Linked DNA regions of Homo sapiens: region 1 is linked to region 2. Evidence: fine-mapped expression QTL. A gene starts in region 2. The other region holds a variant in brackets. All regions are shown on one strand. Distances are from middle to middle.

Region 1 (15,820 bases), 79 kb before region 2:
GGGCTGACTGGGAATGAGCTAATTAGGACTGGCCTTTCCCTATATGTGTTCCCCAGAAAAGGAGCATATACCTTCAGGAAAACATGAATTCACAGGTCAAAGTAGCAGATTTCAGAATCACAACTATGTGAAATGAAACATAGCATTTTAGATTACAGAATCCAACTATATATATAAAAACAGTTGCATAGATAATGTGATATTGGCCTAATAAATATACAAAAAGAGATAAAAGAAGATAATGACAATGTAGATAAGAACAAGAAAACATAAAAAAGCAATATTAGATAAGTAAAATATCATAGTTGAAGTGAACACATCACATGGATAAACAACAAAATGGATAGAGCTGCAAAACTAATTGTCAACTTGGAAGACCAGGCGGAGGAAATCTTTCAGAAGAGATAAGAAAATAACAAAGACGTATAAAATATAAAGAAAAAACTAGGTTATGTGGAAGACAGAAGTACTAACATCTAGGTAATAAGAATTCTAGAAAGAAGAAAAATGAACAGAAAGAAATGTTTGAAGAAAAATGAGATAATCTTCCATAACTGTAAAAAGATGAAAGAAAGATAAAAAAGGTTATAGAAAAAAGATAAGAAAAAATCCACACCAGAACATTTTATAGTAAAATTAAGAATTTCAAGGCTGGACATGGTGGCTCACACCTTTAATCCCAGCACTTTGGGAGGCTGAGGCAGGAGGATCACTTGAGCCCAGGAGTTCAAGACCAGCATAGGCAACAAAGTGAGATCCCATCTCTACAAAAAGTTTTAAAAATTAGGCATGGTGATGCATGCCTGTAGTCTCAGCTACTCAAAAGGCTGAGGTGGGAGGATCATTTGAGCCCAGGAGGGTGGGGCTGCAGTAAACTGTGATTTCACCACTGCATTCCAGCCTGGGTGACAGAACAAGACATCATCTCAAACAAACAAACAAAAAAACCCAACAACAACAAAAAAAAGAATTCAAGGAAAATTCTAAAAGATTATAAAGAGAAAGAGAACATCACAAAAAGAGGACTGAAGTCAGATTGACATCAGATTTTTTTTTTTTTTTGAGACAGAGTCTCACTCTGTCACCCAGGCTGGAGTTCAGTGGCACAATCTCTGCTCACTGCAACCTCCACTTGCCAGGTTCAAGCAATTCTCCTGTCTCAGCCTCCTGAGCAGCTGGGACTACAGGCACCTGCCACCATGCCTGGCTAATTTTTTTTTGTATTTTTAGTAGAGACAGGGTTTCACCATATTGGTCAGGCTGGTCTTGAACTGCTGGCCTCAGGTGATCTGCCCACCTTGGCCTCCCAAAGTGCTGGGATTACAGGCGTGAGCCACCAGGCCCGGCCTGACATCAGATTTTTTAACAGCAACAACTGATGTAAGAAAACAGTGGAATGAGCTGGGCATAGTGGCTCACACCTGTAATCCCAGCTACTCCAGAGGGTGAGATGGGAAGATTGCTTGAGACTAGGAGTTTGAGACCAGCCTGAGCAACATAGTGAGACCCCATCTCTAAAAAAATATTTTAAATTAGCCGGGCACAATAGTGCACTCCTATAGGCCTAGCTTACTCAGGATGCTCAGGTGGGAGGATCTCTTGAGCCCAGGAGTTTGCGGCTGTAGAGAGCTATGATTATAGTATTGCATTCCAGCCTGGGCAATAGCATGAGACTCCATTTCTAAAAAAAAAAAATAAGAGAAAGAAAAAGGGAAAAAAAAAAAGAAAAAAGAAAAGAAAAAAATGGTGGAGGAATGGTATGGTATTCTCAAAATAATAAAGGCAAAGAAACCATCCTCAATTTTATTTATTTATTTATTTATTTATTTATTTATTTATTTATTTATTTTTGAGACAGTGTCTCGCTCTGTTGCCAGGCTGGAGTGCAGCGGCACGATCTTGGCTCACTGCAACCTCTGCCTCTTGGGTTTAAGCAATTCTGCTGCCTCAGCCTCCTGAGTAGCTGAGACTACAGGTGTGCACCACCACGACCAGCTGATTTTTGTATTTTTAGTAGAGACAGGGTTTCACTATATTGACTAGAATGGTCTTGATCTCTTGACTTCGTGATCCTCCCACCTCGGCCTCCCAAAGTGCTGGGATTACAGGTGTGAGCCACTGCGCCTGGCCTATTTATTTTTTTGAGATAAGAGTCTCGCTCTGTTGCCCAGGCTGGAGCCTGGTGGTGCAATCTCCACTCACTGCAACCTCCACCTCCTGAGTTCAAGCAATTCTCCTGGATTAGCCTCCCAAGTAAATGGGACCACAGGTGTGTGCCACCAGGCCCGACTAATTTTTGTAATTTTAGTAGAGATGGGGTTTCACCATGTTGGCCAGGCTGGTCTCGAACTCCTGACCTCAGGTGATCCACCTGCCTTGGCCTCCCAAAATGCTGGGATTACAGGCGTGAGCCACCATGCCCTGCCCATCCTCTATTTTTATATCCAGTTGGCCATTCAAAGATAAGGGCATGATAAAAAAAAATATTATCAGGCACAGAAGTTCTCAGAAGATTTACCACACAAAGGCTATGCTGAAAACTATTTTAGATGAAAGGCTTAAATAAAGGGAGAGTAAATCTAGTAGATACTGCCAGAGATATGTAAAGTAAAGATGACCAAGTACACCGGTAAAATTTCTTTGACTTAAAAGAATAGCCAAGACTAAAGAAAAAGAGAACTCATAGACACAATAATCTGGCATCAAAGTGTAGATAATAACATGATGTGGATTGGGGGCACAGAGATGAAGAGATGAGTGTATAAAGTTTTGTTCTTATGGGGGAAGAGATAGTTACCAATTTAAAGAAATGGTTAATAATATATATAGAAAAAGTGAGTCAGACTGAAAAAAAATAAAGTGGTAGAAACAGGTCCGAATAAATAATTACAATAAATATAAATGAACTAAACTCATCAGTTAAAGACAAAGATGGAAAAATGTGATATAACAAAAATTCAGGTATGTGCTATTAACAAGAGATAAAACTAAAGCATAAGGAATTGCAAAGACTCTAAGTAAATGAATAAAAAAGATATCAGTAAAATACTAATCAAAATAAAGCTGGTTTATCTACAGCAATATTAGATAAAATGGACTTAAAGGCAAAAAGATACATAGCATGTATGCATTTAATAAAGCAAAAGGTGGCCCAGGGTGATGGCTCACCCCTGTCATCCCAGCACTCTGGGAGGTTGAGGCAGGTAGATCACTTGAGTTCAGGAGTTTGAGACCAGCCTGGGCAACATGGCGAGAACCCCATCTCTGAAAAAAAAAAAAAATGCAAAACTTAGCCAGGTGTAGTGGTGCATGCCTGTAGTCCCAGCTACTTGGAAGGCTAACATGAGAGGATCATCTGAGCCTGGGGAAGTTGCAGTGAGCCATGATCATGCCACTGCACTCCAGTTGGTGATAAAAGAAAAAGATTGATAAATGTTGCTTTGTTAGAGAAAGTAAAAAGTTATATATAGAAGATATTCAAAACACATAAAACTGGCAAAGGACTGGTATCATAAAGAACTTCTGCAAATCAGTAAAAGAAAAAACACATAAGCAGCCCAATAGGAAAATGGGCCAAAAAAAGAACTGTTTTCACAGAAGAGAAAACACATGATCAATAAACATATGAAGAGATGTTTAACATAATTAGTAATTGGGAAGTATAAATTGAGACTACAGTCCGGGTGTGGTGGCTCACACCTATAATCCCAGCACTTTGGGAGGCCTAGGTGGGCGGATCACGAGGTCAGGAGATTGAGACCATCCTGGCTAACATGGTGAAACCCCGATTCTACTAAAAATACAAAAAAATTAGCTGGGTGTGGTGGCACGCACCTGTAGTCCCAGCTACTCAGGAGGCTGAGGCAGGAGAATGGTGTGAACCCGGGAGGCGGAGCTTGCAGTGAGCTGAGGTGGCGCCACTGCACTCCAGCCTGGGCAACAGAGCGAGATTCCGTCTCAAAAAAAAAAAAAAAAAAAATTGAGGCTACAATGGCACACAATTTTATACTCATTCATCTGGTAAAAATTTGAATGGTCTGATAACACCAAATCTTATCAATGCTGGTGAGAATGTAAAATTGTATAACTACTTTGGAAAAGTTTGACATTTTCTCCTAAATTTGGGCATTCATATACTATTATGGGTTGAATTTTGTCCCCTAGAATAAAATGTTAAAATTCTAACTCCTGGAACCTTCAATGTGATCTTATTTGAACTTTGCAGATGTGAGTAGCTAGGTTATAATGATGTCATACTGGGCCCTAAATTCAATAGGACTGGCATCCTTATAAGAAAAGAAGAGGCCAGGCACGGGTCTCATGCCTGTAATCTTAGCACTTCGGGAGGCTGAGGTGGGTGGATCACCTGAGGTTAGGAGTTCAAGACCAGCCTGGCCAACATGGTGAAACCCCATCTCTACTAAAAATACAAAAATTTGCCAGGTGTGGTGGCGGACGCCTGTAATCCCAGCTACTTGGGAGGCTGAGGCAGGAGAATTGCTTGAAACTGGGAGGCGGAGGTTGCAGTGAGCTGAGATTGCACCATTGCACTCCAGCCTGGGGGACAAGAGTGAGACTTCATCTCAAAAAAAAAAAAAAGAAGAAGAGGAGAGACAGAGACAGAAACACACAGAGGAGAAGACCATGTAAAGACAGAGATAGAAATTGGAGTGATGCATCTACAAGCCACGGGGTGTCCAGGGATGCTGGCAACCATCAGAAGCCGAGAGAGACATGGGACAGATTTTCCCTCAGAGGCTCCCATAGGGAACCAGCCCTGAGGACACTTACTGTGAGATAACACATTTCTGTTTTTTTGAGGCACCCAGTTTATGGTAATTTGTTAGAGCAGCTCTATGAAACTAATACACATACTCAATGACCCAACAATTCTACTCCTAGGTATAGACCCAACATAAACCATTTCATGTGTACAAGTGACTGCATAAGGAAGTTCACAGGATTTCAGTTCACAACAGCAAAAACCTGCAAAGAACCTAAAAGCCTAACTATAAAAGACAGAATAAATAAATTGTAGTAAATCCACGCAATGGAATGTTATTCAGCAGTCAACATGAATGAACTATAGCAATGAGGGGGTCTATCTGCAGACCCTGACCCAAACGATGGATGAATGAAGTACACTGACACACAGATATTCTGCTATGCCAGTCCAGCTGAGTGTCTGGGCCACTTACAGACTCCAAGCAGAGTGCTGTAAACAGTCACGACCATGGCCCTGACCAACTAGTGAGACTCGCATTTATTTAGTAAAGATGAATTGACAAAGGCTTGAGTCAACACCACCAGAGGGTAATTGACATTGTGGACTTCCTGTAGAAAGTAATTAAGCACCGGTGGTAGATCAAAGGTTAGTCTTAAACAACCTAGCTAGATACACTACTCTGCCTTCTTCCTTACCCACTTGAAGCTTTTTACTCAAGGTAAGGATTAGGTTGCCTTCAGCCATTGTCTTATCCTGAGACTTCTGTAAAAACCTTCAGGCCTTCCAAGAAAGTTTGTGTTTATTTTTATAACTATCTTTAATATTTTTCCCACCAGCCTGATTGAACTCCCACATAACAACACACAAAAATATGAGGAATCTTAACAATATAATAATAATAAATGAATCTAAAGAGTTTACATATTCTGCAATGCATTTTTAATAAAATTTATGACCAAGATAATAGTTCCTTTTTATGAATGCAAATACGTGCAATTCAACTATATGAAATGGAAGGCAAGGAAATTGTTTTTTTATTTTTTTGCAAACACTATGGTGACTTAAAGGCAAGGAAATTGTTAACATGGAATTCAGCAATATGGCTACCTTGAGTAGACAAAGGCAGAGGGACACGATGGGAAAAGCAACCATATGGTTAGATGTAGGTTGTTGTCAAGGTCTTAGTTTTTGCTTGAGATGGTGGGTTCATGAGTATTTATCTATGTCTACAGCTATGTTTATATGTATATTAACATAACAATATTTAATGGAGGAGGCCACTTAAGGACCACAGAGGAAAGTATGCCATAAATAGGATTAGAACTAATTCTTTTTTTTTTTTGTCTTGAGACAGAGTTTCACTCTTGTTGCCCAGGCTGGAGTGCAATGCCGCGATCTTGGCTCACTGTAACCTCCGCCTCCTGGGTTCAAGTGATTCTCCTGCCTCAGCCTCCCAAGTAGCTATGATTACTGGTGCCTGCCACCACACCCAGCTAATTTTTGTATTTTTAGTAGAGATGGGGTTTCACTATGTTGGCCAGGCTGGTCTTGAACTCCTGACCTCAGGTGATCCACCCGCCTTGGCCTCTCAAAGTGCTGGGATTACAGGTGTGTGCCAACGCATCTGGTAGATTAGAACTAATTCTAATCCAATCCTGTGCATCTGGGGCTAAACATCCCCCAAATTGTTGGGCTTTCCCAGATTTGTCCATGATTCTACAAACTGGTGCTTCTGGCTAATTCTGATTTTCACAAGGGTCTGGAAATTGGAATATTTTTTCCACGCTAACTCTATGACCTGCAGTGTGGCTAACCAATCTAGACCAAACATGCAGCTCTGGATTGTTCAGGATTTAGTGTGCCAATTTAGATAGAAAGCTCAATTAATTAAAATAAAGAAGCACAGAGACCAAAAGTTCATTGAGTTCAAGTAGAATCAGCTCAATGGGTGGGAAAAAGAAAAAAGAATCAGTTCCTATAAAAAAGGACAGCATAGTTGCTAGAACCCTCTAGAGATGTACAGATATTAGATAGTTTTGGCAGGAAGTGGTGGCCAAAATACATGAAACAACAACCTGAAAAAATAAGAGTTAATCAGGGATTACAGCAGGGATGAAAACAAACAAGCCAAAAAGCCACAGCAACAACAAAAACAGGTGGAAGATAACAGGAAAATCTAATCTTCACTGCCCATGGGCTGGAATGTAATGTTTTGGCTATGTTTTTCTTCTTCTTTTTTTTTTTTTTTTTTTTGAGACGGAGTTTCGCTCTGTCACCCAGGCTGGAGTGCAGTGGCGCGATCTTGGCTCACTGCAAGCTCCGCCTCCTGGGTTCACGCCATTCTCCTGCCTCAGCCTCCCGAGTAGCTGGGACTACAGGCGTCCGCCAACACGCCCGGCTAGTTTTTTGTATTTTTAGTAGAAATGGGATTTCACCGTGTTATCCAGGATGGTCTCGATCTCCTGACCTCGTGATCTGCCCACCTCGGCCCCCCAAAGTGCTGGGATTACAGGCGTGAGCCACCGCGCCCGGCCTTGGCTATGTTTTTCTTGGTAAACATCTCTACTATCTGCTTTTGAAATGATGGAGCTACCTTTCAGTTTTAAAAACAATATATTTCAGGCATCTCAAGTAATCCACAATCTGGAGGCAAAAGTCAAGACTGAGTTGACAGAGCACAAATCTGTTTCATTTGACTACATTAAAGAGGTTTGCATTCTTTCAAGGGCTTACTAGCGAGTTGTTCAGAAGCAGTACTGACACGGGGGCCTGGGATTGTTGAGGGATGCTTATGCACAGAGAGGAAGGTTTGCTAATCCAGGAGCACTGAATCATCATGATGTAAACTTGCAGGACTTCATGGCTTCAGTGATACATCATTGATCTTTAATTCCAGTCCACAGAACTTTTTTTTATGGTAAGGAAAAGGATATGGGAAGAAAAAAGTATTATAAGCATGTTTCTCATATTTCTTCCCTCTTTTACCCTATAAATAAAAGAGCAAAGGTATTACTGAGCAAATGTTCTCTTGAAAAACTTGATTTCTTCTTATGCTTGGAAATTTTGCTATAGAGATAGTCATTGCTACTGTTTACAGTAGACA[T/C]TCCAACCCTGAAAACTAAACTCTGAAGTATTTACTATGCTTAGATAAATCACATATTTGTCCTCATGAGTACAGCCTGTTCAGGTTTGTACATACCATTGCGTAATTCCCTAAGAACTCTTTCCAATTTAAAAGGATGACTTTGGACACCTTTGTGGAAGTTGATAGGAAAGATTTTTGCTCTTTAAAATACTTGTTAAATAGGCCAGTTAAAAGTATGCTTTGTACTGAATTTTGCCTTTATCAGTAAAGGCTCCAAGAATGTTGATAAAATAAGAGAAAAAGAAATTGGGCTTTTCTCCTGCCAGAATTGGAAGGGAGAGACCCAAAACTAAGAACGGAAAATCTGTCATAATAATGGCAGAATCCTCAAAAGAAGATACACAAATAAATGCAGCTGAGGAACCTGGAGACTTCCCTGGTTTCTGTCCCTTGTGAGACTTCAAATCATAAAATACCCTAATATCTTTCTGTAATCTTCTGTCATGTTCTAAAATGTCTAAAATATTGAAACAGTCCTTATTATCAGAAAAAAGTAATCATGAACAGAGCCCAGAATATGGTATAAAACATTACCTTACTGTTCTCATCATGTCATTGTTCAGTCCTACCTCCAAACAATGTCCCATGAGAAAACCCAGAAGACATCTCCCTCACTAAAGCATTGAGAAATGCATTAATAAATGGAGCACCTGCAACCTCTTTCAAAGGAGAGCTCTGTGGTTGCTCTCTTCTATAGGGTAGGTGGAAAATATGCCATTGACATGGTCTCCCCAATTTCAATGATGGGATGATGGGATCTCAGAGTGGCATAGGTAGGGGTGGCACTGAATCTCCAAGGACAAAGTAAATGCATCCACTGTAAAGGGCAATCAGAATGCTTTGGCCTGCAGACATATTTGATGGTGGTTAAGTTATGGTGTTCTTAGGAATGAAATAGATGGGCAATCTACCATTGTATTGCTTGATCTGTAACAGAGGGAAAAATTCTAGGTCTGGTAGCTAAAAACCTGATGAGTCACTGCAGTGGACAGTCATGGCCTCTTGTGTTGAGATCTAAGTCAATTCACAGAGCCAAAGCTCCTTGATTAAAGAGGAGGCTGGGAGCCAGGCACAGTGGCCCATGCCATCCCAGTGAGTCAGGAGGCTGAAGCAAGAGGATTGATTGCTTGAAGCCAGGAGTTTGACCTCAGACCCTACGAAAAAATTAATCTAAAATGTCGGGGCGCGGTGGCCCATGCCTCTAATCCGAGCACTTTGGGAGGCACAGGTGGGCAGATCACAAGGTCAGGAGTTTAAGACCAGCCTGGCCAACATGGTGAAACCCTGTCTCTCTAAAAATACAAAAATTAGCTGGGGATGGTGGCATGTGCATGTAATCCCAGCCACTTGGGAGGCTGAGGCAGGATAATTGCTTGAACTGGGACCCGGGAGGCGGAGGTTGCAGTGAGCCAAGATTGCACCACTGCACTCCAGCCTGGGCTACAGAGGGAGACACCATCTCAAAAAAAAAAAAAAAAAAAAAAAATCTAAAATGGATCATAGATCTAAATGTAAACCTAGAATTATAAATCTACTAGAAAAAATATAGGACAAAATCTGTGGGACCCTGGCATAAGCAAAGTTTTCTTAAGTAGAACACAAAAGAAGATATAAAAGAAATAGATGGGGCTTGGCATGGTGGCTAACATGTGTAATCCCAGCACTTTGGGAGGCCAAGGTGGGCTGACCACCTGAGGTCAGGAATTCGAGACCAGCCTGGCCAACATGGTGAAACCCCATCTCTACTAAAAAAAAATTAGCCGGGCATGGTGGCACATGCCTGTAATTCCAGCTACTCAGGAGGCTGAGGCAGGAGAATTGCCTGAAGCTGGGAGGTGGAGGTTGCAGTGAGCCGAGATCACACCACTGAACTCCAGCCTGGGCCACAGAAGAAAATTCCATCTAAAAAAAAAAAAAAGAAAAAAAAGAAAAAGAAATAGGTAATCAGTTGGGCTTCATCAACATTTAAAACATTTCTCTTTGAAAGTCAGTTAAGAAAATGAAAGTCAGCTAGGTGTGGTGGCTTACGCCTATAATCCCAGCACTTTGGAAGGCCAAGGCAGGAGGATCACTTGAGCTCAGGATTTCGAGACCATCCTACGCAACAGAGCAAGACCCCACCTCTAGAAAAAATTTTAAAAATTAGCCAGGCAGGGTTGTGCGTGCCTATAGTCGTAGCTATTTGGAAGGCTGAGGTGGGAGGATCACTTGAGCAAAATCAAAACTGATTTTCATTAAATCTCAAAGTAATCTGTTGACTGAAAGAAACCAAACAAAGATATATATTGTATTATTTCACTTATATGAAATTCTTGAAAATAAAAACTAACTTATGTAGCTAGACTGCAGATCAGTGGTTGCCTGGGGACAGGTTAAAAAGTGCAATGAACTGCAGACAGGTATGAGAAAACCTTCAATGGCAATGGAAATGTTCAGCATCTTGTTTGTGGAGATGGTTTCATAGTTACATATGTTTACCAAAACTTATCAAATAGTGAACTTCAAATATATGCAGTTTATTATTCAAAATTATACTTCAATAAAGTTGTGAAAATGGGAGCGGGGAAGCAACAAATACTGGTGTGAGTCAACAGCATGAACCATATCACCTTTTCTCATTTTCCAGAAGTATGCTGAGTTCCTTGGTCAGCCAAAATAACCACCCTCTCGCCCATATGAGAGGATCTTCCTTGTCCATTTTCCCCCATAGTACCTGTCATTTTTTTTTTTTCTGCTGCTATAACAAAGGACCACAGATTGGGTCACTCATAAAGAAAAGAAGTTTAGGCCAGGCACAGTGGCTCACACCTGTAATCCCAGCACTCTGGGAGGCCGAGGAAGGATTGCTTGAGCCCAGAAGTTCAAGACCAGCCTGGGCAACATGATGAGACCCTGTCTCTACAAAAAATACAAAAATTAGCTGGGCATGGTGGTGTGTGCCCATAGTCTCAGCTACTTGGGAGGCTGAGGAGGGAGGATTGCTTGAGCCAGGGAGGTTGAGGCTGCAGTGAGCTGTGATTGTGCCACTGTACCCCAACCTGGGCAACAAAGCAAGACCCCATCTGAAAGAGAAAGAGAGAGAGAGGGGATAAAAAAGAGAAAGAAAGAAAAGAAAAGAAAAGAAAAGAAAAGCTTACTTGGTGTTGCGGGAAGTCAGGGACCCTGAATGGAGAGACTGACTGGAGCTACGGCAGAGGAACATAAATTGTGGAGATTTCTTCTTAATATGGACATTTATCAGTTCCCAAATAATACTATTATAATTTCTTATGTCTGTCTTTAATCTCTTTAAACTTTAATCTCTTAATCCTGTTATCTTGCTCACTGCAAGCTCTGCCTCCTGGGTTCACGCCATTCTCCTGCCTCAGCCTCCCGAGTAGCTGGGACTACAGGTGCTTGCCACCATGCCCAGCTAATTTTTTTCTTTTTGTATTTTTAGTAGAGACGGGGTTTCACTGTGTTAGCCAGGATGGTCTTGATCTCCCGGCCTCATGATCCACCTGCCTCGGCCTTCTGAAGTGCTGGGATTATAGGCATGAGCCACAGCGCCCGGCCTGATCAGAACATTTTTTAATGAAAGGATCTAGAAAGCAACTTGGAAGTGTAAATAGTCACCTTCATTTTCTCTAACTTGATCAAGACTAGTGGGTCCATGGCCCTGTGTTAGTTCATGCATTCATCTCAGACCCAAATGAAAGTTTCAACTCCCAAAATGCAGTTCCTTAGATGCTCGTCTGGACGTGATGACGTGCCCGCCATATAAGAAGGTGCAATCATAGGTATCACAGGTAGCCAGATAGAAGACATTTTTTTCTCCCAAAATTATTCCTTGGAGTGGGGAGTGATATGGGGGAAGAGCTCCCATCTTAAGGGGCACACACTGAGTTGCTTATGCTACTTCCTTGTTCAAAATGAAGTAACTGCCTTAATCTAAAAAAAGAAAAGAATATTTACAACACTGAAAATGAATGAACTACGATTTATGTATAGCATGGATGAATTTCATAAACATTGGACAAAAGAATCCAGACACAAAATAGTGGTTGCCTTTGGGCAATATAGAAGGGTGCAAGTGGAAGTAGCCTCAAGAAGTTTTCTGGGGTGCTGGTAAGGTTCTATTTTCTAAACTATGTGGTGATTAAATATGTGTATTCACTGTGTGGTAATTAATCAAACTGTTTACTTTTTTTTTTTTTGAGACTGAGTCTCGCTCTATCGCCAGGCTGGAGTGCAGTGGCTTGATGTGGGCTCACTGCAACCTCTGCCTCCTGGGTTCAAGTGATTCTCCTGCCTCAGCCTCCTGAGTAGCTGGGATTACAGGCGTACGCCACCACACCCAGCTAATTTTTTTGTATTTTTAGTAGAGACGGGGTTTCACCATGTTGGCCAGGATGGTATCAATCTCTTGACCCTGTGATCCACCAGCCTCGGGCTCTCAAAATGCTGGGATTACAGGCGTGAGCCACTGCGCCCGGCCAACTTTTAAAAAAAAATTTAGGTAAAACCCACATAACATGTAATTGACTATCAGCCATTTTAAAGTGGACAATTCAGTGGGATTTAGTGTATTCACAACGTTGTGCAACCACCACCTCTGTCTAGTCCCAAGATATTTTCCTCACCCCAAAAGGGAACCCCACCCATACCCATCAAGCAATTGCTCCTCATTCTTCTGAGCTGTTACTTTTCTACACTTTTCTACAAGCATGTTTTACTTCAATTTAAACTTTAGCCCATGAAATCTAGGCAAGACGAGGAGGAGAATGAAGTCATATAGGAGCTGATGAATGTCAAGCCATGGTGGGGTGGGCCACTGGGTTGAAGATTTTGAAAAGGTTGAAGAAGTATGGTAGTGGACGCACTTGAGTAAGTGAATTGAAAGGAAAGAGGTAGTGGTCAGAGGGTAGGATGCTTAAATAAAGATTTCACAAATGCGTTCATTTCTGTTGATCCCAAGGAAGTGACCGTGTGAGTGTGTAGCTGAGGTGGAATGGTGAAAAAGATCATTGAGGACACATCTGTTAAAGACCTAAGAAGCCAGAGCATTGAATGGTTCAACTACATGGCGTTAGGTGGTTCCAACCAATCAATGCTGAGGTCACAAAAATGGGTAAAAATGACATGGCAGGAGTTGGGGAGGAGGGGAAAAGCAGGAAGCTAAGTGCAAGTCTCTCCTGCATGGAGGGGCATCGCCAAGAAGTAGCTCACAGCTTCAAGGAGGAGGTCAAGGGAGTTAGATGACCTGACCTTCAGAAGAGCTGAGGATTTTGGAGGAGGGAATAGGAATTGGAAACTGCAACTGCAGGCCATGAGGACACTGCCTAATAATGCCACAGTGGCCTTGGGGACAGCCATGTTTCAGGTAGGGCAGGAGAAGAGATGGAGGATGTGGGAGAGTTTAAGATCACAGAGAGGAGCTTCTGAGAACACAGCGAGGTGTGGGAGAGGCAGTGCTTGCATCATATTGGAGGACAGACATGGCAACACAAAGACAGGTAGGTTGGGGGTGACTGGAAAACAGGATGGAGGCTGGACTGGATTCAGCCTGAAGATACACTCAGGGTGAGGGTGGCAACCAGACCCGACGACGTGTGTCCTGGCAATTTCTCTCCAAGAAACCACTAGTGATGAAGCAGTGCTTTAGGTGCTTGGGGGTTGAGCACCTTCCTGATATGTAGTGTTAACAGCTTATAAATGGCTATGTGTGACTTTTTTTTCTTCTGATCAACGCTGGTCCTTAATCACCATGTTGGATTACCTCCTGCTATGGTTTGAGTGCTAGTCCCCTGCAAAACTCATGTTAAAATTTATTTGCCATTATAACAGTATCAAGAGGTAGAACTTTTAAGAAGTGATAAGACTATGAAGGCTCCATCTTCATGAGTGGATTGATGTTGTTATAAAAGGGAGAGTTTGACCCTCTTTTGTCCTCTCTTGCCCTTCTGCCTTTTGTCATGTGATGATGCAACAAGAAGGCCCTCACCAGATGCCAGCACTTTGACACTGGACTTCTCAGCCTCCAGAACTGTGAGCTAATAAGTTCCTGTTTATTGTAAATGACCCAGTCTCACATGTTGTTATAGCAGCACAAAAATGGACTGAGACACCTTAAGAGGGAGATACATGCTGCTGTGGTGGATATATTAGAGATTAATTTAGAAAGATTATTAAATCACTGAAGACCTTTTAAAAATTGATTTTCTTTGGCCAGGAGCGGTGGCTCACACCTATAATCCCAGCACTTTGGGAGGCCAAGGTGGGTGGATCACGAGGTCAGGAGATCGAGAGCATCCTGGCTAACACAGTGAAACCCTGTCTCTACTAAAAATACAAAAAATTAGCTGGGTGTGGTGGTGAGTGCCTGTAGTCCCAGCTACTTGGGAGGCTGAGGCAGGAGAATGGCGTGAGCCTAGGAGGCGGAGCTTGCAGTGAGCTGAGGTAGCACCACTGCACTCCAGCCTGGGTGACAGAGCGAGACTCTGTATCAAAAATAAAATAAAATAAAATAAATTTTCTCAACTACAAAGATAGTGAGATCACAATTATTATCATGGTCCTTAAGATTTTTTTGACATTGAAAAGTACTTTGTAAAGCATATATGTGATAAAACACTTGAATTCAGACTACATAAAGAACACTCAAAACTCAACAGTAAGAGAACAACAACCTAATAATGGGGAAAAAATTTGAACAAACACTCCACCAAAGAAGATACACAAATGGCAAACAAGTACATGAAAAAATCTCAACGTCATCAGTCATTGGGAAAATGCAAACTGAAACCACACACAGAAACTGTGAAAATTAAAAAGACTGACCATGATTAGCTATGGCAGGGACATGGAAGAACTGGGACTCTCATACACTTCTGGTGTAAATATTAAATGGTTAAATGTTGGAAAACAGTTTGGCAGTTTGGTAAGAGCTAAATGTACACCTACTGCATGATCCAGCCCTTCCACTCCTAGTATTTATCCTGAGAAATGAAAACATACGTCCACACAAAGACTTGTGTGCCAATGTTCATAGCAGCTTTATTTGTAACATAACTAAACTGGGAATAGCCCAAATATCCATTAACAGGTGAATAAACAAATTGCGATACATCCATGCAATGAAATACTACTCAGCAGTGAAAAGGAATGAATGGTTGATACATACCACAACATGGGTGAATCTCAAAATAGTTATGTAGAGTGAAAACAGCCAGATCCCCTCCATTAAAAAGAAGTATATACAGTATGATTTTATTTATATAAAATTCTAGAAGATTAGATTTAATCTGTAGTGACGAAGAGACAAAGGAGGTGGGATAGAAAGAGGCAGAGACGGGGGTTACCAAGGGGCAGGAGGAAAGTTTTTGGGGTGAGATGGGTATGTTTTGTCTTGAGTGTGGTGATGGTTTCATGATTTATACATATGTCAGAACTTATCAAAGGTCCGGCATGGTGACTCAAGCCTGTAAACCTGGGGCTTTGGGAGGCAGAAGCAGCAGGATTACTTGAGGCCAGGAGTTTAAGGCTGCCATGGGCTATGACTGTGCCACTTCACTCCAGCCTGGATAACAGAGTGAGACTCTGTCTCTAAAATTATTTTGCCAGGCATGGTGGCTCATACCTGTGATCCCAACACTTGGGGGGCTGAGGCAGAAGGATTGCTTGAGGCTAGGAGTTCAAGACCAGCCTAGGTATCAAAGCAAGACCCCATCTCAACAAAAAGTTTAAAAAATTAGCCAGGTGTGGTGGCACACATTTATAGTCCCAGCTACTCTGGAGGTGGGAGGATTGCTTGAGCCCAGAAGTTCAATGCTGCAGTGAGCTGTAATAGGGCCGCTGCACTTCGGCCCAGGTGACAGATTGAGACCCTCTCTCTCTCTCTCTCTCTCTCTCTCTCTCTCACACACACACACACACCTCCACACATACACACAATTGGGATGATAGTAGTA
Region 2 (15,820 bases):
CCCAGGCTGCAGTGCAGTGGCATAATCTCAGCTCACTGCAGCCTCTGTCTTCCGGGTTCAGGCAATTCTCCTGCCTTAGCCTCCCGAGTAACTGGGACTACAGGTGCCCACCACGATGCCTGGATGATTTTTGTATCTTTAGTAGAGATGGGGTTTCGCCATGTTGGCCAGGCTGGTCTTGAACTCCTGACCTCAGGTGATCTGCCCACCTCGGCCTCCCAAAGTGTTGGGATTACAGGTGTGAGCCACTATGCCCGATCACTTTACAGTAAAGCTTTTATTTTAAAAGTTTTCCCATATACAATACAGGCACAGTTAACTAACCTATTATAATCACATAGAATTGCTTTACAGTTCAAGAAACTCCATAAATTTTAAAAAGAGAAATATAGACTGCAGACTTCTATCTGAATTCTGAATTTGATGACTGCTTCAAAACACTGAATCAGGGTATCTTAATAACTGAGTTAAGAGAAAAACTCTGGCTCATGCCTGTAATCCCAACACTTTGGGAGGCCGACGAGGGCAGATCACAAGATCAGGAGTTTGAGATCAGCCTGACCAACATGGTGAAACCTCTGTCTCTACTGAAAATATAAAAATTAGCTGGGCATGGTGGTGCATGCCTGTAATCCCAGCTACTCAAGAGGCTGAGGCAAGAGAATTGCTTGAACCCGGGAGGCGGAGGTTGCCGTGAGTCAAGACCGCGCCACTGCACTCCAGCCTGGGTGACAGAGCAAGACTCCATCTCAAAAAAGAAAAAAAAAAAGAAAAACTCAGAATCAACAGATTGACTTTAATCCTAAAATAAATAGCAAGAGTATATGCTGCTTATATGTTTGACCTTATATGCTTGACCAAACAAGAGGGTTCATCCGGATCCCATTAAAAATACTAGTGCCTTATATTTATGCAGCATGTCTTGTCTTAAAACACTTTCATACATAGAGTTCCTGTGAGGCAGAATGGGCAGCTCCTGTAATACCCATTTTATAGATGAGAAAACTGAACCTAATTTAACTAAATTAACTAATTTACCCAGGATCACACAACAAGAGGTGGAAGACCCAGATCTTCTAAGAGTTTGGTGCTTTTATATTACCTTCTGAATCTTTTTTATGTGTTACAAATTACTCTTAATATTTAGAACAATTAGGACTTTTAATAGTAAAGTACCATTATACCAACCTGTGGACTGGATTTTGAATTCAAAATAGCTTTTGTTTTGATGTAAAGGTGCGCTGGCTAAACAACCTCCTGTTCCACATATTCTTCTTCCATTCTTTACAATAACAACATCTGTTCCTAAACAAAAAATGCAGACACTATGTAAAGTTTTGTATTTTCTTTTCTTTTCTTTTCTTTTTTGAGACGGAGTCTTGCTCTGTCACCCAGGCTGGAGTGCAGTGGCACGGTCTTGGCTCACTGCAACCTCTGCCTCCTGGGTTCAAGTGATTCTCCTGCCTCAGCCTCCCGAGTAGCTGGGACTACAGGTGTGCACCACCACACCTGGCTAAATTTTTATATTTTTAGTAGAGATGGGGGTTTCACCATATTGGTCAGGCTGGTCTTGAATTCCTGACCTCGTGATCCGCCCACCTTGGCCTCCCAAAGTTCTGGGATTACAGGCGTGAAGCACCGCGCCTGGCCAAGTTTTCTATTTTCAATCCAACAATCAGGATTAATTTGTTCAGTTCTAACTCAGTCCACAAAAAATAGGGACACTGTAAGTACTTTGAAATATAGCTGAATTATTTTAAATATTTAATTCACTATTTTTTCCTAAGAGAACATTTATAAGTAATATTCATTTGTATGTATAAGTTTTAATTAAGCATGCTGGGTACAGTGGTTCGTACCTGTAATCCCAGCACTTTGGGAGGCCGAGGTGGGCAGACTGCTTGAGTGCAGGAAGTCGAGACCAGCCTGGGCAACCTTGCAAAACCCCATCTCTATAAAAAATACAAAAATTAGCTGGTGTGGTGGCACAAGCCTGTAGTCCCAGCTACTTGGGAGGCCGAGGTGGGAGGATCACTTGAGCCTGGGAGGCAGAGGTTGCAGTGAACTGAGATTGCACCACTGCACTCTAGCCTGGGCGAGAGAAGTAAGTTTTAATTAAGCAGTTTCAAGTAAACTGCAATAACTCTGAATTATATTGAACGTTCAAAACACTTTTAAGGTAGAAATAGACTAACTCTTTTAATTTTTAGCCAGGAAACCAATTTGATGATTTCATAAATTTCTTAATTTAAACCAAAACATAAACACAAGAGACTTTAGTAAATTGGTAGTTTTCAATTCTATTCAAATGAATTAAAACAATTTACTAAAAGCCACCTGAATGCCTACTAAATACAAGCTACTATACTTGTGCATTAGTCATGTAAGAACTGAAGAGTACAGGGAATATGAAAAAGAACACACATCTATGTTGAAATACCTGACAGTGACAAACTGCTAACTTTAGGATCTTAAAATGTTTATTAAGATAGCTACTTCAATCACATTGCAAATATGTAAACAAGGTTTTAACATTCTTACATGCACTTTATTCTCGTAGAAAATTTTTTAGATGAAACGACATCTATAGATGAGAGTGAGAAAGAGAGACACTGTCTCCTGATGTGATCCTAGTACCAATTTGATTTAGGAAAATGTCTATCAGAGAATATACATAATTCTAACATGTAAGAATACACAGAATTACATAATTCTAATATGTAAGAAATAGCCCATACACCAATGCATAACTCCCCATACTTGTGGCCACTACCACCACTTTGCTGGCAATAACTGTACCAGCCAAGCAGATCTGAATATTCGAACTGTATGGGACTCTTCCAGAAGGGGTTAAATAAAATTAGGTCATAGTAACAAAAGGTTGAATTAACAGTTAAACAAAATTATTTGGTACAAATACATAAAAGAAATGCAAAATTTTCAGATTCTAACACAATTCTAAACTGGTTAAGAGATGCTCTCCCTTAAACAAGGCAAAACTGAGATCCTATTGTATGATTACTAAAAATTCATTAACATCTTTTTTTTTCTAATTAAAAAAGTTAACCCCCAAATTCTGGGAAAGTACCTTTATAAATAATTTGCATCTGGCTACTCCATATACCTCCAGTAATTTCAACTGGAGAGCATCCTCCTTGATGGCAAAGACCATGCAGTGCTTGGCATTGAGCAGCTGCTCATCAAATAACTGATAAAGGTTGAATTAATATGCTGTGCTAAGCACTTTGTAGTGGACATGCAGTATCTGTTCTCCCTCTCCCGACAGACTTCCCTCTGGAGATCAAAACAGTTCCAAGAAAGCTGACTCAATCTCTGCTTCAGGTGTACAACATTTGATCTAGGTTAAGGCAATCAGTGCCCTCCACATTTCTTGGCCACAGTAACTGAGTCAAGAACTGCTACATGACCTAATCAACTACAATCAGAATCTCAGGACTTTTGCAGAGCACAATGGGATATAACACTCTTGGCCAGGCGAGGTGGCTAACACCTGTAATCCCAGCTCTTTGGGAGGCTGAGGCAGGCAGATTACTTGAGGTCAGGAGTTCAAGACCAGCCTGGCCAACATGGTGAAACCCCCATCTCTACTAAAAATACAAAAATTAGCCAGGCATGGTGGTGGGCGCCTATAGTCCCAGCTACTCAGGAGGCTGAGACAGGAGAATTAATTGAACCCAGGAGGCGGAGGTTGCAGTGAGCTGAGATCAGGCCACTGCACTCCAGCCTGGGCGACAGAGCGAGATTCCCTCTCAAAAAAAAAAAAAAGAAAAAAAAAGAAAGAAAGAATATTCAGGGTGTTTATGAGTCATTAGGGAATCATTTTAAGCTTATCCCATTTCTCTTAAGTACACAGACGGTTTTAGAATCTGTACTTTTAATGATTGGTGCTGCTTAGACGGTCAAGGCAAATTTGAGTACAGCCAGAATGCCACATAAACATAGCCACAGAGGATGTTTTAAGAAACATAAATTTCCAAATGAGCGGTGTCCCTTTCAAAGTAGCTGCCTTGGAAGTCATTTGTTTCTAAAATGTCGATTCACAATTAAAAGCCAAAGATATGGCATCAATGATAATACTTACAAAAATTATGCCATAGAAAATTCCAAAAGAGGAATTCCAAAGTGGTTTTAAGTAATACAACATCACTAAAATAAGTGACAACCCTCGGAGAATCACTTGAAGTATACAGACAATTTTGTTAAAAAAAAAAAAGCAATCACATTTTTTAGGTTATTTAATATAATAATCTTTCACACCACCAAATCCATGTGTTTCTATTTTCAAGTCAAGATCAATTCATGCTTGAAACATGTTCTTCTAACTCAACAACCCTTTTCTTTCATTTTATTCAGGTTCTCAAATCAGGCTCCTCTGTGATTGAATAATTTAAGTTTATAGAAAGACAGGCTAAGAAAAAACTTCCTGGCCGGGCGTGGTGGCTCACCCCTATAATCCCAGCACTTTGGGAGGCTGAGAGGCAGGCAGATCACGAGGTCAGTTCGAGACCAGCCTGACCAACATGGTGAAACTCTGTCTCTACTAAAAATACAAAAATTAGCCGGGCTTGATGGTGGGCGCCTGTAATCCCAGCTACTCAAGAGGCTGAGGCAGAAGAATTGCTTGAACCCGGGAGGCGGAGGTTGCAGTGAGTGGAGATTGTGCCACAGCACTCCAGCCTGGGCAACAATAGTGAAACTCCGTCTCAAAAAAAAAAAAAAAAAAAAAAGAAAAGAAGAAGAAAAAACTTCCATGCAGTTAGAAAATTTGGAGATGACATTACTCTATTTCATCCAGTTAGTAGCTGACAGTTGCTGGACAGCTTTGGAGAAATAAAACACAGTGGAATGAGTATATCTGACCAGCTCTTCCTAGAGGAAACAGATGACAGAGAAAAGGAATGCTCCAAAGAGGAGACTGCAGTAATTCAAGAGTCTAACAGTAAAGATAGGAAGAAGTGCTGCAGTTGATCATGAGTTCCAGGAATTATGTATGGTTGTCCTTCACTATATTCTCAGCACTTATAACAATGCCTGCCACCTGATAATTGCTTAATAAATATCACTTCAGTAAATGAGTAACTGAAATGGAAATATTTTCTGAGGAAAACTATAGAATTTGAACTCCATCGTCTATAAATAATGATGGATAAAAAATAATTTAAAGATTACTTATGTATTAAGGTTCTGTACTACATTTGGGAGATCTGAGAATTAAAAGTAAATACACACATACAAGGTGATTATATAGTTATCACATTTAGTATGTGTTATACAAAAATACAGTGGGCAGAGTGTTTCCAGAATTATAAGGAAACTGGGCGAGAGAGTTTTATCATAAATATTAAGAAGTGCCTTTTTATTTCAATGCACTGTCCTTTAAACAATCAGAAACGTGTAAAAAATCAAAAGTGCAGAAGTACAGTTAGAATAAAATAATCCACAAAAAGACAGTACTCTAACTGAAATAATTATATTGGGAAATCTCTCCTTCTAGAACCACATTCCAGAAGCATGAAACTACCTGGGAAAAGTCTAAGAAATAATAAGGTGGTGAAAGAGGCTATGATGGGAGAGGAAGAATGTTAGATAAATTATATGGATTTGGAATTAAAAGGATAAAGCAAGATGCAAAGGAGCAAAGTGCTATTTTATTTTTCAACAGTTAGACCTGTTGGGAAGAGGCCAGTCAGATGAAATTACAGTACCTCTCACAATGACTAAGGAGTCGGGCAATGGGAGGTTTTAGTTGAAATGGCAAGTTCTGACCTGAGGTGCGACTTCAGACTTCTGCAGTCTGCCTTGTTTCGACTTTAGGAGGTGAGAGGAAAATTACTTCCAATAATATAGGATTCAACCTATAAATGATGGGGCTCAAGAGACAGGACCGACAGTCAGGGCAGGAGGAGGAGCAAGACCGGACCTAGAAGCATTCTGAAAATGTGTAGGTTTTCACTGGGGCGCGCCAGAAGGGCACTCTCCGCCCCCTCGCCCGAGGACGTGTGACATCTCCGGAGGAAGCCTCCGAGATTCCTGTGAAAATGGGAGGTCCACACGCCCATTCGCGATGACAGACACAGAGAGGGCTGCGCAGCCTTGAACACAGAACCGGGCCCAGGTGGAGTCCGCCGGCTTCTGGAGAGATCTGCGAGACGAAATGGTGTCGGCGCAGCGTCGCCGGCGCGGCGGGGCAGCGTGGGGACCCTCTGACCCTGAAGGTCCCCCTGCCCGCCGCGCCCGGCCCCCGTGAGCCGTTGGGTCTGGGGAAGGGAGGGCCCTTACCCATGTGCTGCGTGTCCAGCTGCACGGCCGGCATCTCCTTCAGAGGGATGTGGCCAGTCCCCCCGTCTCTGCAGCACCGCAGGCAGCACAACACCGAGGTGGCCATCGCGCAGGGACCACCGACTCCGCCGCCGTCCCTAGACCGAGGCGACACTGCCCCCCGCCGCTCAGCTCCGTCTCCTGCCCCCGCCCGAGGTCCGGACTTGTCTATGTGGAGCTCGGAGGCCGGTACAGCGACACCCTAGGCCGGGAGGGCGCAATGCAGGCTGAGCTTAGGCTGGCCTGCGAGGAAGACGCGGAGAATCAAGGGGCCGGGGAGAGACCGGACAGGGCGAGCGGCCGGGCTGGGCCGGGGAGACGGGTGGGGCTAGTGGCGCGCGGAGGCGTGGCAGGGGGCGTGGCGTTGCGGGCCTGCGGATGTGGGACGGCGTGCGCCTGCGCACCAGCTGGTTTTTTCTCCTTGGGCGGTTTCGCGCACGCCCCCAGGGCTGACAGGTGAGTGGGGCTGTCTGTCCCTCAGTACTTCCAGGGGTTTTCCTATGCAGAATTTTTAAAACGCAGCACCCCTTGGTCCCGGCCTCGACATTATTTCTAGGGATGGATTGACAGAAGCGAATCAGTTTGGGGGAAGGGGAGCTAATGGAAATGACTTCCGAGTTTTCCCTCCGCGGGCCCAGGTTGAGCAGGCTTTGCCACCACGGAGAGCCCCAGTCTCCCTGCCGTGGCTGGTTTCCCTCACATGCTAAATAGACTCACGTGGGCCCCAGGAGTAATGCCTGTTAGTGACTGCACTGTGGATGTTCACCGGGGCTCACGCGGGCCCTAATGCATTTTCGGTGCAGAGACGCGCCCTACCTGGCCCATCGGGCTGCGTGGTCCGGGGCGCGTGGGAGGCCGCCCTGGGAGCAGAACGCTGGGGCGGGGTCGGGGGCGATTCTTGACCTGCCTCTTCCAAGCTCCCCCTGTCTGGTGCACTGAGGGTTCCGAGGAATGTGACGGGAACCCAGGAGGCTGCGGGAAGTCTGCTGGGTCCCGAGGGAAGCCTTCGGCTCCTACCGTCCGCTACTTTCTGCTTCCACACGGGAGGCTGTCACCTGTCATCTCCTTCCCCACTTAGATCATCCTTCCGTGGTAGATTTTACATCTTCAGGCCGGGTGCAGTGGCTCACGCCTGTAATCCCAGCACTTTGGGAGGCTGAGGTGGGCGGATCACCTGAGGTCAGGAGTTCAAGACCAGGATGGCCAACATGGTGAAACCCCGTCTCTACTAAAAATACAAAAATTAGCTGGGTGCGGTGGTGCACGCCTGTAATCCCAGCCACTCAGGAGGTTGTGGCACGAGAATCGCTTAAACCCGGGAGGCGGAGGTTACAGTGAGCCTAGATCGCGCCACTGCCCTCCAGCCTGGGCAACAGAGACTCTGTCTCCAAAAAAAAAAAAAAAAAAAAAAAGATACCGCTTGGCATCTGGAAATGTCTGGGACGACCTCTAGAATTAACCTAGCTCAAACCTCTGTTCCCAGATCAGTTTCATCCTGAAGGCTTCCCTAGGGATGGATCATCAAGTCCTGGGAAACTGGACATAAAATGCCCACTACTTAAATAATGATTTCCCATACGTAACTTTTAGTGACCCGAGTTATAAATGTTTTTTAAGGAGGATTTCTATCTATGCAATGAGGGGAATTTTTCAGGTTCCTGGTTCTCTTTCTATAAATGGTGTTTTCATTACAATACTAAGGGAAAGTTTTGTACGTTGAAATTAAGTTACCATAGAATTTAATAACCAAGGTGATTATTAAACTGATTGAGGGTTGGTCTTTTCCCCCATTGCGTATGCAGTACTTTCTTGGTAATCATTTCACACAAGAAATTTTCTTTTATGACAAACCTTCATCGTTATGCTGGGAATTAAGTGCTTTGATTTTTTTTTTTTTTTTTTTTTTTAACCCCAGGGAAGTGCTGGGGGCGGGGCAGGGGGTGAGAATTTTAACAGAATATTGGAGAGACAAAATTTTTCTACCGTTCATATATATATATCTAGTTGAATTATTTCAAGATTTCAAGGTCAGTATTGTCCCCATTTTATAGGTGAAGAAATAGGCCTAGAGGTACTAAACTTTACAACTTCAGGTGAGCAGGAGATAAACAGGTAGGATTCAAGGCTTACCAGTCTGATTCCTGTTAGAAGAAAAACTTCAGCTGAACTAAATTTAAAGGAGTTAAACTGAGCAGTGAATGACTGGGCAGCCCCCAGAATCACAGCAGATTCAGAGAGACTCCAGGGATGCCTCGTGGTCAGAACAAATTTTTAGACAAAAAGAGGGAAGTGACGTACAGAAATCAGCAGTGAGATACAGAAACAGCTGCATTGGTTACAGGGGGGCGTTTGCCTTATTTGAACACAGTTTGAACAATCAGCAGTGTATGACTGGTTGAAGTATGGCCGCTGGGATTGGCCAAGACTCAGCTATTGTTACAGGTGCATACTCCTAAATTAGGTTTTCAAGCTTGTCTGCCTATTAACCTAGGTTACAGTTCGTACACAAGGACTCAAATACAGAAGTACAGAGTCCTTCTCAGGCCATATTTAGTTTGCTTTAACACTGCCTCTCAAATTCTTTCTCTTATAATTAATGCTATAATCCTCTTAAACATGCTCTCAGTTCAAAATGCAGATTTGCCCTTTTTTGTGTGTTTCATTTATCTCCACATTGGATATAAGCTGCCATAATGCATGTATAGACAAAATATAATAGAATTAGTTGTTATAAAGTAAAAATTTTGTTCAGAAATATTATTAAAAGAAGTACATGTATTATATATGTAATAAACATTTAGGCCATTCAAGTCAGTCACATCTTCAATGAAAAGCCAGACACTAAATGGCCGTGAATTGGACATTACTATAGAGAGGCAGAAGGGCCATAGTCTTTCCTAGCTGGAAAAGTAATTTGCTGGGGCGCTGCCCGGTGCACTTTGCCCCCATCCTAGCAACTCGAGTGTGCTCAGCAGAATGAAGTTAGCAAAACTGGTTAGCTCCTGAAACAGACTTCCCTGTCTTGGCAGATTAACACCATCCATGAGCTCACTTTTCCTTCTAATATCTGGGATTCTAATATCCATTCATTATTACTTTCAAAGGAATTATCCTCTCTTTTTGAAAAGCACAACGTTAAAGATGTTTTGACACTCTTTCACAGCTATCGCTTTAAATAACAATCACAAATAAAGCCAAAAATAGTTTCTCAAGGTCATTTATCTAAGTCATAAGCAATAAGAAAGAATGACTACTTCAAAAAAAGAGTCTGTCTGCTTCCAAGACATGCCAGGAACTCGAGAACTGAGAACAATAATGTAAAGCTTGTGTTTCAGAGTTGAGATTAGCATTATGCTTAAGATTTTCTTTAATGTTTTTTATGCCAGCTGGACGTCTTCTGTTAGTGAATTTCCCATTCTGTACTGGGTCATACGAAATGAGTTTTTAAAAACTCATTAATCAGTTATTAAACAAAACATTTTTCCTTAGACTAATCCAAACCACATTTGTGATCTTTTTAAAAATCAGAAACATTAACAAAAACTCATTTTTCTAAAAACTGACATATTTCTGGAGCCTTGACCAATTCATTATTATAATTTTGAGTAACTAATAGTGATTGACATTTATGTAGTGCTTATTATTGCCAGGCACTGTTCTAAGTGTTTTTTAAAAATAAACTAATTTAGTCTTTGTAACAACCATGTGAGGGAAAAACTATCCTCCACTTTACAGATGAGGAAGCTGAAGAAAAAATAAGAAATGTACTCAAAAGTTGCACAGTCAATGAAGGATGAAGCTAAATTCAAACAGACATTCTGGCTCTAGGGTCTGTGTTCTTAACCACTCTGCAAACTGCCTCCTAGGGTGTTACATTTAAAAATACATTCCTAGGTCTGGTGCGGTGGTTCACGCCTGTAATCCCAGCACTTTGGGAGGCCGAGGGATATGGACTGCCTGAGCTCAGGAGTTCGAAACCAGCCTGGGCAACATGGTGAAACCCTGTCTCTACTAAAAACAAACAAAAAAATTAGCCGGGCATGGCAGTGTGTGCCTGTAATCCCAGCTACTTGGGAGGCTGAGGCAGGAGAATCGCTTGAACCCAGAGGCGGAGGTTGCAGTGAACCAAGATCGTGCCATTGCACTCCAGCCTGGGTGACAGAGCAAGACTCTATCTCAAAAAAAAAATAAAAAAATAAAAAATGAATATACATTCCTAATTTGTATTTGTCTCCTTCTATCCCCTTTCCTCAGAGACTGACATTTAAATTTACTTGGCATGAATTGTGCTCATTTAATCTGGATTTCCTGAATTATAAGTTATATTACCTAGATTGAACAACCAAAAATAAATAAGGAAAATAACGTCAACCTTGTAACTGCAACAGACTGCCATTAGTTGGTTCTCTTAGCGGTGCCTTTGAATATTAATATTTTGCAGGTTTGTCCTTAACAGGCTGTCTCTACCGGAAAAAAAAAACGATATTTAGTACTTTTTTTCTTCTTTTTCTTTTTTTGAGACAGGGTCTCACTCTGTTGCCCAGACTGGAGTGCAGTGGCACCACCACGCCTGGCTAATTTTTTGTGTTTTTTATAGAGATGGGGTTTCACCATGTTGCCCAGGCTGGTCTTGAACTCCTAGGCTCAAGGGATCCACTCACCTTGGCCTCCCGAAGCGCTGGGATTATAGGCATGAGCCACCCTGCCTGGCCTGTTTAGTACTTTTTTTTTTTTTTTGAGACAGAGTCTTACTCTTGTCGCCCAGGCTGGAGTGCAATGGTGCGATCTCAGTTCACTGCAGCCTCTGTCTCCTGGGATCAATCGATTCTTCTGCCTCAGCCTCCTGAGTAGCTGGGATTACCGACGCCCGCCACCACAACCAGCTAATTTTTGTATTTTTAGTAGAAACGCACTTTGGGAGGCTGAGGAGGGCGAATCACCTGAAGTCAGGAGTTTGAGACCAGCCTGGTCAACATAGTACTTTTAATTGCTAAGACAGGTAAACCAGGTTGGAGACTTGGAAAATGCAGAGACTTGGCATTAGGAAGAAAAAGAAGCTGGGGTAAAATAAAGGAATTTGAAAAAGGTACAAAAGAAATAAAAATAGAACAATTTTTTTAATATTTAAAATGAAGAAAAAGCAATAGCAAGTGCTACATAAAAAAGGTCTCAGAGAATAGAAAATGTGATTTACCAAAAACTTTCAACCTAGAACTGTACCTTATTCTGCTTACCTTCCATGGAAAATAAAGCAGACTGTCATAAACCAAGGGGATTTCTGTGATCCCTGCCCAACCTCAAGTTCCCTTACTCGAAATGCAAGTACCCTAGTGTATTTCTAAGTACTTTTCCTTGCCAATTTAGATTCTAAGTACTACTGTGGCAATAATTAGCGAAAATAGATACTGAGGATACAAAAGGGAGACAAAGCAAAGGTCAAAACCAAAGTAGTTTTTTGCATTTTCAAAAGAAATAAAGGAAGATGAGGACAAGTAAAGTTCGTCCTTGGATCTATGCTCCTTATTAACAGGAGGGCATTTAAACCTGTGACTTTGTAGAAAGGGCTGATGAGAAGTGTGTACAAAGTTTTCATGGCCAAAGATAAGGCTACATAATCTGGTATTATGGGAGAAAGGCTGGAGAACACTTAGCTGTGCCAAATAGTTCAAATAAAAGCTTCCCAAAGCATCTCAAGCATTCAAGTGATTCTGTGTCTTTGAAGTACAGTAGGGGTCAAGGAGCAAGAAGTCACCATCTCCAGATTATAAAGTGAAAAAGTACTCGACATTTGCAGAAAGGACCAGACAGAAGAAAAAAACACTTCTGGGTATATATAATATCTGCAACCAAACAAAATTATAAATATTTTGTTGAAATTGTGAGAAAGACCCTAAAATATTTCTAGTAACAAGGAAGGTCACATGGATTATTAAAATGTACCCAACATTACTAATTTAGGATAGATACAATGCCATTTAGTCTCTATAATTTTATTTTTGTGAATGTAAAAATATTTATAAAGTTTTTCAAAAGGCTCCACCTATAGTGACAATCCCTTCAAACCTATTTTCTCAATAATGGCCCTGCAGATGAATATCCCCGGGACTGTCAGAAACCTGCCTTTTGTGTTGAGAAGGAACTGCTATACTTCTGTTAAAGCAAGTGTGTCTATGGTTGTAGATATGGTGCTGGATAGAATTAGTGTAGTTCTGGGGACAACTGCTAAGCCACTATGCTTTACAGATTCTGTAACCTGAGTCATAGGGAACGTGGGACTACTTAAAATTGTTGGTGAAAGTTTATGAAACTCTGGATTGTTCGAAAAATGCTCAAAACAAAAAACAACAAAAAAAAGAAACAACCCTATGAGAGTTGGGTATGATAGTACATGTGTGTAGTCCCAGGTACTTGGAAGGCTGAGGTGGGAGAATCACTTGAGCCCAAGGGTTCAAAGCTGTAGTGAGCTATGATGGCACCTGTGAATAGCCACTGCACTCCAGCCTAGGCAGTGTGGCAAGACCCCATTTGTAAAACAAGAACAAAAACGTGAAATAACTTTGAAATACCAAGAGTTAGTGAGAAGAAGCTCCAGGGATATGTTTATGGCCAAGAGAACTTTAGTGTAGCAGAATAGATTTGCAGAGAATTTAGTATAATTAAAATACTTTTTTCTTATTTTTAGCTATTCCAAACTTTTAACCAAATCCTTTTTTTTTGAGACAGAGTCTCACTCTGTCGCCCAGGTTGGAGTGCAGTGGCGCGATTCGGCTCACTACAAGCTCCGCCTCCCGGGTTCACGCCATTCTCCTGCCTCAGCCTCCCGAGTAGCTGGGACTATAGGCGCCCGCCACCATTTTTTTTTTCTATTTTTTTTTCTATTTTTAGTAGACACGGGGTTTCACCGTGTTAGCCAGGATGATCTCGATCTCCTGACCTCGTGATCCGCCCGCCTCAGCCTCCCAAAGTGCTGGGATTACAGGCGTGAGCCACCGCGCCCGGCCCAAATGCTTTAAGAATTATTTTACATCCCTTCTTAAGTAGGTAAACTTCCTGTTTGTAGATATCATGTCTTACATCTAATGCAGATATCAGTCCACATCAAACATTTAATACATTCTTAAAAAAAATATGTGAAGCCTTGGAAAGGAAGAGAGAAGTTAGGAAGATACTTTAATCTTTCCAATTTCTTAGGAAAAAAAGGAAAATTCCATTTTATATGTTCTTAATTCAATGATGTCTGCTATGTAGTGAGCACTCTGTAAATATTTATAAAAACAACAAATGAACGAAGCCCCCCAAATAAGTAAATATGTTTTTTTGTTTTGTTTTGTTTTTTGAGACGGAGTCTTGCTCTGTTGCCAGGCTAGAGTGCAGTGGCCCAATATCGGCTTGCTGCAACCTCCGCCTCCCAGGTTCAAGTGATTCTCCCATCTCAGCCTCTTGAGTAGCTGAGACTACAGGTGCATGCCACCACGACCAGCTAATTTTTGTATTTTTAGTAGAGACGGGGTTTCACCATGTTGGCCAGGATGGTCTCGATCTCTTGACCTCGTGATCCACCCGCCTTGGCCTCCCAAAGTGCTGGGATCACAGGCGTGAGCCAACACACCCGGTCAAGTAAATACATTCTAATTACACCTCATTTCATCCACAACCCAGAAAGTAGTATGTAAACTGAATTCTTAGAAAAACATTTCCACGTTAAATGCACTAGGGCAGGTTGCCGTATAAAGGAATTCTATAAACAATTTTTTTTTTAAGAGATAGGGTCTCACTTTGTCACCCAGGCTGGAGTGCAGTGGTACAGTCATAACTCACTGCAACTTTGAACTCCTGGACTCAAGCTGTCATCCTGCCTCAGCCTCCCAAGTAGCTGGGACTAAGGTGCCTGCCACCACGCCTGGCTAATTTTTTAAATTTTTTGTAGAGATGGGGGGGTCTCATTTTGTTGCCTAGGCTGGTCTTTAACTCCTGGCCTCAAGTGATCCTCCTGCCTCAGCCTCCCAAAGTGCTGGAATTACAGGCATGAGCCACCGTGCCCAGCCACAGATTTTTTAAAAATAACAGTTTTATTGAGATATAATTCACATATCATAGAATTCAACCTTTTAAAGTATATGTTTAATGGTTATAGAATGAACCATTGGTTTATAGAATATCACTGAGTTGTACAATTGCCATCGCCCCAAAAATAAACTTAATATTACTAGCAGCTACTTTCCATTCCTCCCTACTCCAGCCCCTGAAAACCACTAAGTTACTTTCTGACTCTGTGGGTTTACCTATTCTGAACATTTCATATAATTGGAATTGTACAGTATTTGGTCTTTTTCATTATCTAACTTCTTTCACTTAATATGACGTTTTCAGGGTTCATCCATGTTATAGTATCTATTCCTTCCTAATACTTTATTCCTTTTTATGGTTAAATAATATTCTACCATATGGATATACCATATTTTGTTTATCCATATATTTATTGATGGACATTTGGGTTGTTGCTATTTGGCAATTATGAGTAATGCTGCAAGGTTTTTGAGTGAACATATGTTTTAAATTCTCTTCATTGTATATCTAGAAGCAAAATTGCTGGATCGAATAATGACTCTATTGTTTGAAGAACTGACAAACTTTTTCAAAGTGGCTGCGCCATTTTACAATCCCACTAGCAATGTACAAGAGTTCTAATTTCTCTACATTCTTGTCAGCACTTGTTATCGTCTGTCTTTTTTATTTTAGCCATCCTGGTAGGTATGAAGTGTTATTTCATTGTCTTTTTGATTTGCATTTCCCTATTGACACACAGTGCTGAGCATGTTTTCCTGTGCTTAGTGGCGATTTGTATATCTTTTTTGGAGCAATACCTATTCAGATCCTTTGTCCATTTTTAAATTGGGATATTTTTGTTTTTGTTGTTCTTGAGTTGTAAGAGTCTTGATATATTCTAGATATAAGCCACTTATCAGATAAATGATTTGCAAATATTTTCTCCCATTCCATGAGGTGTTTTTTTACTTTCTTGCCTTTGAAGCACAAACATTAATTTTGACAGAGATTTATTTATCTGTTTTTTTTTTGTCACCTGTGCTTTTGGTACTTGTGATGGTTAGTTTTATGTGCCAACTTGACTGGGTTAAGGGATGCCCCATAGCTGGTAAACATTATTTCTGGGTATTTCTGTGAGAGTGTTTAAATGAAAGATCAGCATTTAAATCAGTTGACTGAGCCAGGCATGGTGGCTCACACCTGTAATCTCAGCACTTTGGGAGGCTGAGGCAGGTGGATCACTTGAGGCCAGGAGTTCAAGACCAGCCTGGCCAACATGGCGAGACCCTGTCTCTATTAAAAATACCAAAAAAAAAAAAAATAGCTGGATGTGGTGGTGGATGCCTGTAATCCCAGCACTTTGGGAGGCTGAGGCAGGTGGATCACTTGAGGCCAGGAGTTCAAGACCAGCCTGGCCAACATGGCGAGACCCTGT

Alleles and levels. Alleles are on the strand shown, and positions count from the first base shown. SD is a standard deviation of normalised expression in the study named.
For the expression in fibroblasts of the gene that starts at base 6,511 in region 2, C is the low allele of the variant in region 1 and T is the other (small effect, 0.40 SD a copy in GTEx).

What was found.
Region 1: its variant is fine-mapped to the expression of SPRYD7 in fibroblasts (GTEx, PIP above 0.99). The same link has a PIP of 0.9 or more in lung and stomach.

The regions. Positions count from the first base shown.
Region 1 is chr13:49,850,835-49,866,654 of GRCh38, forward strand. No RefSeq gene overlaps it. Among named protein-coding and RNA genes, the nearest start is that of KPNA3, 66 kb to the left of the region's middle. The variant T/C (reference allele first, on the strand shown) is at 7,830.
Region 2 is chr13:49,929,830-49,945,649 of GRCh38, forward strand. SPRYD7 (SPRY domain containing 7) reads right to left here and starts at 6,511. Exons shown (of 5, transcript NM_020456.4): 1 at 6,301-6,511; 2 at 1,189-1,305. The coding sequence starts at 6,406. RefSeq lists enhancers at 6,322-6,571, 7,442-7,491 and a silencer at 6,612-6,861.